2 linked regions of the Homo sapiens genome follow. The gene in region 1 interacts genetically with each later gene. Each region holds a gene or a part of one and is shown on either strand. Other genes may lie near its edges.

Region 1 (3,500 bases):
GTCTATCATTTCAACACGGGTTTATATATTACAATAAAAGCTAGAATAAAAAATGCAATTTATCCACTAAATCTTTCAAAGTCCTCCCTAAATACACCTTTTGTTTGTTTAATGGAAACAACCCCAAAAACTTTTTTGTCCTCTCTCCTACATATTTGATAACAGTACGGGATAAACAATCAGCTTTTACAAAATCCATGCTTCTAATAACATAAATACTTGATTTTGTTGGTATCACACCTCTAATTTTAGTTAACTTCATTTTCAGCACAGCTCTCTTCTGAAAACAATTCATATACAAAGTCTTTTAAAGGGAAAGCCACCTTTTTAATGCAGGTGCCAACAAGGCTAAGAAACAATATAGAGTTTAGCAAAGCAGGGCCATGGCCCTTTGCAACATTCCTCTGCAATTATAATTAAGAGGCTATGATTGCAGAAAATAAACTACCTATTAAGAAAGAATCTACCATAAAGCTCTACCTTACATGGTGACAATACAAGGGATATATAGTTCCTTGAAAGCAGCCTGGTCTCATCATTTCTTAGATATGGAAAACCCACTAGTGTTATTACAAAGCATCATGTAATTAAATTAATACAAGGGAAGGCATTTCTTAGTTATCACTACTAAAGAAATCATTAAAGTAAAAATAATGAAAGTCTAGTCTTCACTAGAAATGCAGATTCTATGAGGTTTCGTGGGATGACCCTGCCCATAATAATTTCCAATATCACCTAAAACAGAAAAGACACAAACTAAACAATAACTTCCATCTATCTGCCTCTGTGTAACAATTACCCAAATGAAATGTCTCTAACATCTACCACATCATAACATCAAATACTCTAGTTATTTGATGCACACTGAAAATCCAGTGAAAAGCCCCAGGCCCCAATAATTGGAGACTACAGTAGCAATTTCTGAGCAAGTGTGTTTGAAAAAAAAAAAAAGCAGTAATTAACACTTGTTGAGTGCTTACTAGAAGGCACTATTAAGTACTTCACATATCTTTTAATCTTGTCAATAACCTTATGATGTGGGTATTATTACATTATTCCTATTGTATAATAGTAAAGAAGGATGAGAAACAGACAAGTCAGGTATTATTGCCTAAGTCACATAGCCAGCAAGTGGAGGAGCTAGATTCAAACTCTGGCAGGGCAGCTCACAGCTAATGTTCTTAAGTAATAACAACAGGGAATGTCAAGGACACTTACAGATTCACTAGAAATGGCAGGGTGAAGGCTGAAAAAAAGACATAATATGAAATATAAATATTTTAAATAAAGGCTTAGGGTCTTGGTTAATTTAAAGAAAATGAACACAAGAAACTGTACCTAATATATCAGAGTAATTTACTTTTTACTAATAGGGTCCTCAAATCGTATACGAATACGCATAGCTTTCAACAAGTTTCTCTGTTGAAATTTAGGGACCCCAGTCCCACAAAGAATACACAAAGAACCTAAATGATACATGTATACAGGGCAGCCAAGCTACAGATAATTTTTTGGTTTACCAAGAATTCTTCTAGCTGGGCGTGGAGGCTCACACCCGTAATCCCAGTACTTCGGGAGGCCGAGGCGGGCAGATCACGAAGTCAAGAGATCGAGACCTTCCTGACAAACATTGTGAAACCCCGTCTCTACTAAAAATACAAAAAAAAAAGCCAGGTGTGGTGGCATGCGCCTGTAGTCCCAGCTGCTCAGGAGGCTGAGGCAGGAGAATCACTTGAACCCAGGAGGCGGAGGTTGCAGTGAGCCGAGATCGTGCCACTGCACTCCAGCCTGGGTGACAGAGCGAGACTCTGTATCAAAAAAAAAAAAAAAAAAGAATTCTTCTAAAATATAAAGGCGTTATAAAATAACCATCTCCAACTTTTTCCCACTAATTCTGTATCTCACAATTCTCTAGATGGCTACTTTGTAGGCATCCACTTTGTTTTCTTTTTGAGATGGAGTTTCGCTCTTGTCACCCAGGCTGGAGTGCGGTGATGTGATCTTGGCTCACTGCAACCTCCACCTCTGGGGTTCAAGCAATTCTCCTGCCTCAGCCTCCCAAGTAGCTGGGATTACAAGCGCCCACCACCATACCCGGCTAATTTTTGTATTTTTAGTAGTGACGGGGTATCTCCATATTTGCCAGGCTTGTCTCAAACTCCTGACCTCAGATGATCTGCCCGCCTCAGCCTCCCAAAGTGCTGGGATTACAGATGTGAGCCACTGTGCCCAGCCCACTTTTTCATAAAGTATAAAAAGGCTAAGAAGTTTTAAGACCCTACAATTTTTATTCATCATTTAAATGGTCAGTAATGTATTAATAATTTGGGCATTTTAAATGTTACTGATTTGCATCAAAATACAGATTATCCCTAATCCAAAAATTTGATATCCAAAATGTTCCAAAATCTGAACTGTTTTGAGCACCAACTTAATAGTCAAGGAAATGCTAACTGGAGCATGTCAAATTTTTGATTTTCGAATTAGGGATGCTAACTGGTAAATAATTACAAATATTGCAAAACCTCCCCAAATCTGAAATACTTCTGGTCCCAAGAATTCAGATAAAGGATATTCAACCTGTACATAAAAATACTTTACCAATGAAATAAACATTCAGAAAAATCAGCTCAAGGTGGTTCCTTGAACACAACAAACTTTAATTGTCAATGCAAAGAAATTACTGTAAAGAATTATTTATCTGCAAAATTTTACAAATTGCTCACTCTTCAAGAAACTAACAGAATGGAAGTGTCTACTAAGGTCCACAATCTCTTATCCATATTCCTTCAAATTAGATATGTTTCAAATTTTACACTTTTTCAGATTTTGTAGAGATAATATGGTACACCTGCCATATATTATGTAATAGCCTAGAGTTTGGGTGGCATGATATAATCAAACATTAATATTTCTACAGCAAAAAAGTGTGAATATTCACGGTATTCACAGAGGAATAAAGATCATAAATAGCCTCACATTGATTCAGGTTAAGATTTTGATTCCAAATGAGTTACCAAAATTTTTTTCAATTTTCAGGTCATTTTGGATTTCAGAACTGTGAAATGTACCTTTAGCCACAAAGATAAGTTGACTGCAAAAAGAGACTCAGGAAAAAAAAAACAAGAGAAAAGAAAAAAGTTTATTATTTTCATCTTCCAGACTACTTAGCCCACTATCCATTTTTTATACATATTAACACATCTTTAATACATATTTCAAGGAGGTTATTCCTCCTTGAGACATTCGGAGCCTTGGCTTCCATAATACCATTTTCTTGGGATTTTACTTGTACCCCAAGGCCACTCCTCCACCAACCTTTAAACATCAAGGGTTTTCAGTTCAGCCATTCATTTAATAAATCAAGAGCCTACCATGTGCCAAGCAGGTACTGTTCTAAGGGTTTGGGTTCATCAGTGAACAATAGTTCTGCCCTAAATTCTCTTCTCTCGGGAGTTAAGTCCTGGGACCAGTCGTCTGTCTATGCTGTATCTTTTTCA
Region 2 (3,500 bases), on another chromosome or scaffold:
ACTAGGTTTCTCCATGTTGGTCAGGATGGTCTCAAACTCCCGACCTCAGGTGATCCACCCGCCTCAGCCTCCCAAAATGCTGGGATTACAGGCGTGAGCCACCGTGCCTGGCCCACACTCCGTTTCTCTACACTCTCACACAGCACTTTTGACACCAACTCAGAGAAAACCAGTTTTCTTCTACTATACTCTCATAACCGAGAACAATTCTGTGACCAGATGCGTGGGTCTTTTCCAAGTAATTCTCCAAGTCTCCAAACACCAGCTGGGTGTCCTACAATTTAACTCAATTCAGACTCTATCTCCCACAAGTTAAGGACTTTATCGGCCAGATGCAGTGGGCTCACCTAAGCACAGTGCTTTGGGAGGCCAAAGTGGGAGGACTGCTTGAGGCCAAGAGTTTGAAACCAGCCTAGGAAGTATAGCACCCTGTCTCTACAAAAAATTTAAAAATTAGCTAAGCCTGGCAGTGGTGCACACCTGTAGTCCCAGCTACTCGGGAGCATGACATGAGCCCAGGAGCTGGACACTGCAGTGAGCTATGACTGTATCACTGCACTCCAGCCTGGGTGAGAGTGACACTCTGTCTCTAAAAGAAAAAGAGCTGTCCCATAAGACTGCTCCCACTACAAATGCCATTTGCACATCCCAGGGTCCAGTACTTCTGCCCAGCCACCTATAAATTGGGAATTCCCACAACCCCCTCCTCGATTTGATTGATTTGCTAAAGCAGCGCCCAGAACTAAGGCAGGCACTTCACTTCCCATTAATGGTTTATTATAACGGATACGACTCGGGGTCAACCAGATGGAAGCAATACAGACAGCTTCAATGGCCCCTCCGTACATGCCACCCTCTAAGCACTTGGTCTTTCTGGTAACCAGCCCCATCCTGGGCTATCTAGGAGCCCCATCCTAAATCACCTCATAAGCATAAACTCAGCTGTGATCAAAAGGGGCTCATTATGAATTTTAAAAGACACACCTATCACTCCTATGACATGTGGCGCAAAGACCAAATATATTCCATATCATACCTCAGAGGGCAAGTGGGTGCGGCCACAGGTGGGGCATAGGGGAGAAGTCACAGGCCTTGAGGGCCACAGTAAAGGGGTTCCAGGAGCATCCAGTGCAGTGGGGAGCTGCTAGAATGTTCCAGGCACGGGAGTGGCACGGTCTGATAATGACTTTAATTTCTCTGGACATGCTGATGGAATGGATGTGCAAGTGAGGGCAAGAGATGAGGCAAGGGTGAACACCAGGGTCTCGGCTGGGACGTGCTGTTAGAAACATAAAAAGGGGGCCAGGTGCAGTGGCTCATGCCTGTAATCCCAGCACTTCGGGAGGCTGAGGCAGGTGGATCACCTGAGGTCAGGAGTTTGAGACCAGCCTGACCAACACGGAGAAACCCCGTCTCTACTAAAAATACAAAATTAGCCAGGTGTGGTGGTGCATGCCTGTAATCCCAGCTACTCGGGAGGCTGAGGCAGGAGAATCGCTTGAACCCAGGAGGCGGAGGTTTCAGTGAGCCGAGACCCCGCCATTGCACTCCAGCCTGGGCAACAAGAGACAAACTCTGTCTCAAAAAAAGAAAAAAAAAAGAAAGAAATATAAAAAGGCGCCAGGCGTGGTGGCTCACGCCCATAATCCCAGCACTTTGGGAGGCTGAAGTAGGCAGATCCTTTGAGCCAAGGGGTTCAAGACCAGCCTGGGAGATAACATCAAGACCTCCACTTCTAAGAAAGTAAAACCTAAAACATAAATTTTTAAATAAACATAACAAGGCCCCCCTTCCTCGAGGCTGACCAAGCCCTAGAGCAAGGCTTGGCAAAGACAGGCAGGGCCGGGGTTCAGCCCCTGGTTCTTGAGGTAGAGGGTGGAGGCCAGGGAGATTCTGAGAGGAAAACGGAATTCTGAGTTCAAAGAGGTTAAGCCATGCAGAACAGAATCCCGCCTCAAGTCTCTTTGACTCCAGGGCCTGAGTAACTGATTCAGGCCGAGGATCAAAAGGAATAGGATGAGAACCTTGAAGGTCGAGGAAGGGCAGAGTCAAGAGGAAGGGCAAGTAAAGAGCCACTCCCACAGGCACCCAGGAGATGCCTCCAGGAGGCAGGCAAGGCCTTCAGGTGCCCAGCCAGTCCAGGCTGTGCCAGAATCACATTTGATCATCACAGGGGCAGTTTCAGCTCCCTGGGCACAATGAGACATCCACTATGCCCCTTTACTGGGACTTTCGGAGCAAGATGGGTCGCACACAGCAGACCCTCCCCCTCAAGTCTCCCACTGGAACAGGTGAGCAGCAACTGTCACATCAGCCACCTGCTTCCTGAGCCACTGGGGCGTGACTTGCCAGTGGCAAAGAGAAAACTTAAAAAACTCCCAAGAGCTAGCACAGTGGATCACGCCTGTAATCACAGCTAGTCAGGAAGTGGAGGCTGGAGGATCACTTGAGTCCAGGAGTTAAAGACCAGCCTAAGTAACACAGCGAGTCTCCGTCTCTAAAAAAATAAAAAGTGGAAAGAAAAAAAAAACACCTCCTCAAAGAACCATTTTAAAGTCGATCACTATTAAAAACGGGGCCCGTGCTACTCTATCACACTCACAGCTGGCTGCACACAGAGCAAAACGGTTCACAGTGACAAGTGTCCACATACATAAATGAAGCTATGCCCCTTTAGGGAGGTAACAGAGTCCCCAAAAGCAAAGCTCTGGAAACCAGTCTGGGACTTAAAAAAACATTTGAGGCCAGGAGTGGTGGCTCATGCCTGTAATCTCAGCAGTTTGGAAGGCCAAGGCAGGCGGATCACCTGAGGTCAGAAGTTTGAGACCAGCCTGACCAACACGGAGAAACCCCGTCTCTACTAAAAATACAAAATTACTGGCCGGGCGCAGTGGCTCACGCCTGTAATCCCAGCACTTTGGGAGGCTGAGGCGGGCGGATCATGAGGTCAGGAGATCAAGACCATCCTGGCTAACATGGTGAAACCCCCGCAGGGCATGGTGGTGGGCGCCTGTAGTCTCAGCTACTCGGGAGGCTGAGGCAGGAGAATGGCATGAACCCGGGAGGCGGAGATTGCAGTGAGCCAAGATCGTGCCATTGCACTCCAGCCTGGGCAACTAAGCAAGACTCCGTCTCAAAAAAATAAATAAATAAATAAAAATTAAAAAAAAATACAAAATTAGCCGGGCATGGTGGCGCACGCCTGTAATCCCAGCTACTCAGGAGGCTGAGGTAGGAGAATTGCTTGAACCTGGAAGGCAGAGGTTGCAGTGAGCCGAGATCACACCGCTGCACTCCAGCCTGGGAGAAAAGAGTACAACTGTCTCCAAAAAAAAAAAAAAAAACCACACATTTGAAAGGGGCCAGGGTTGGTTTCCACCCTACTAACATTTACCTATTTTCTAAAGAAAGCCCCCTTCCAGTCGGGCGCAGTGGCTCACGCCTGTAATCCCAGCAGTTTGGGAGGCTGAGGCAGACGGATAACGAGGTCAGGAGATCAA

What was found. Genes that interact genetically often act in the same process or in processes that back each other up.
Region 2: changes in HDAC2 (region 1) and SMARCA4 together harm fitness more than expected from each alone (negative genetic interaction), as found in Homo sapiens cells (one large-scale study listed by BioGRID).

What each region holds. Positions count from the first base shown.
Region 1 is NC_000006.12:113,961,149-113,964,648, forward strand, and holds part of HDAC2 (histone deacetylase 2), read right to left. Parts: intron 1,247-3,500; exon of another isoform or gene 1,219-1,246; intron 1-1,218. UniProt on the Homo sapiens protein: Histone deacetylase that catalyzes the deacetylation of lysine residues on the N-terminal part of the core histones (H2A, H2B, H3 and H4).
Region 2 is NC_000019.10:10,967,530-10,971,029, reverse strand, and holds part of SMARCA4 (SWI/SNF-related matrix-associated actin-dependent regulator of chromatin subfamily A member 4), read right to left. Parts: intron 1-3,500. UniProt on the Homo sapiens protein: ATPase involved in transcriptional activation and repression of select genes by chromatin remodeling (alteration of DNA-nucleosome topology).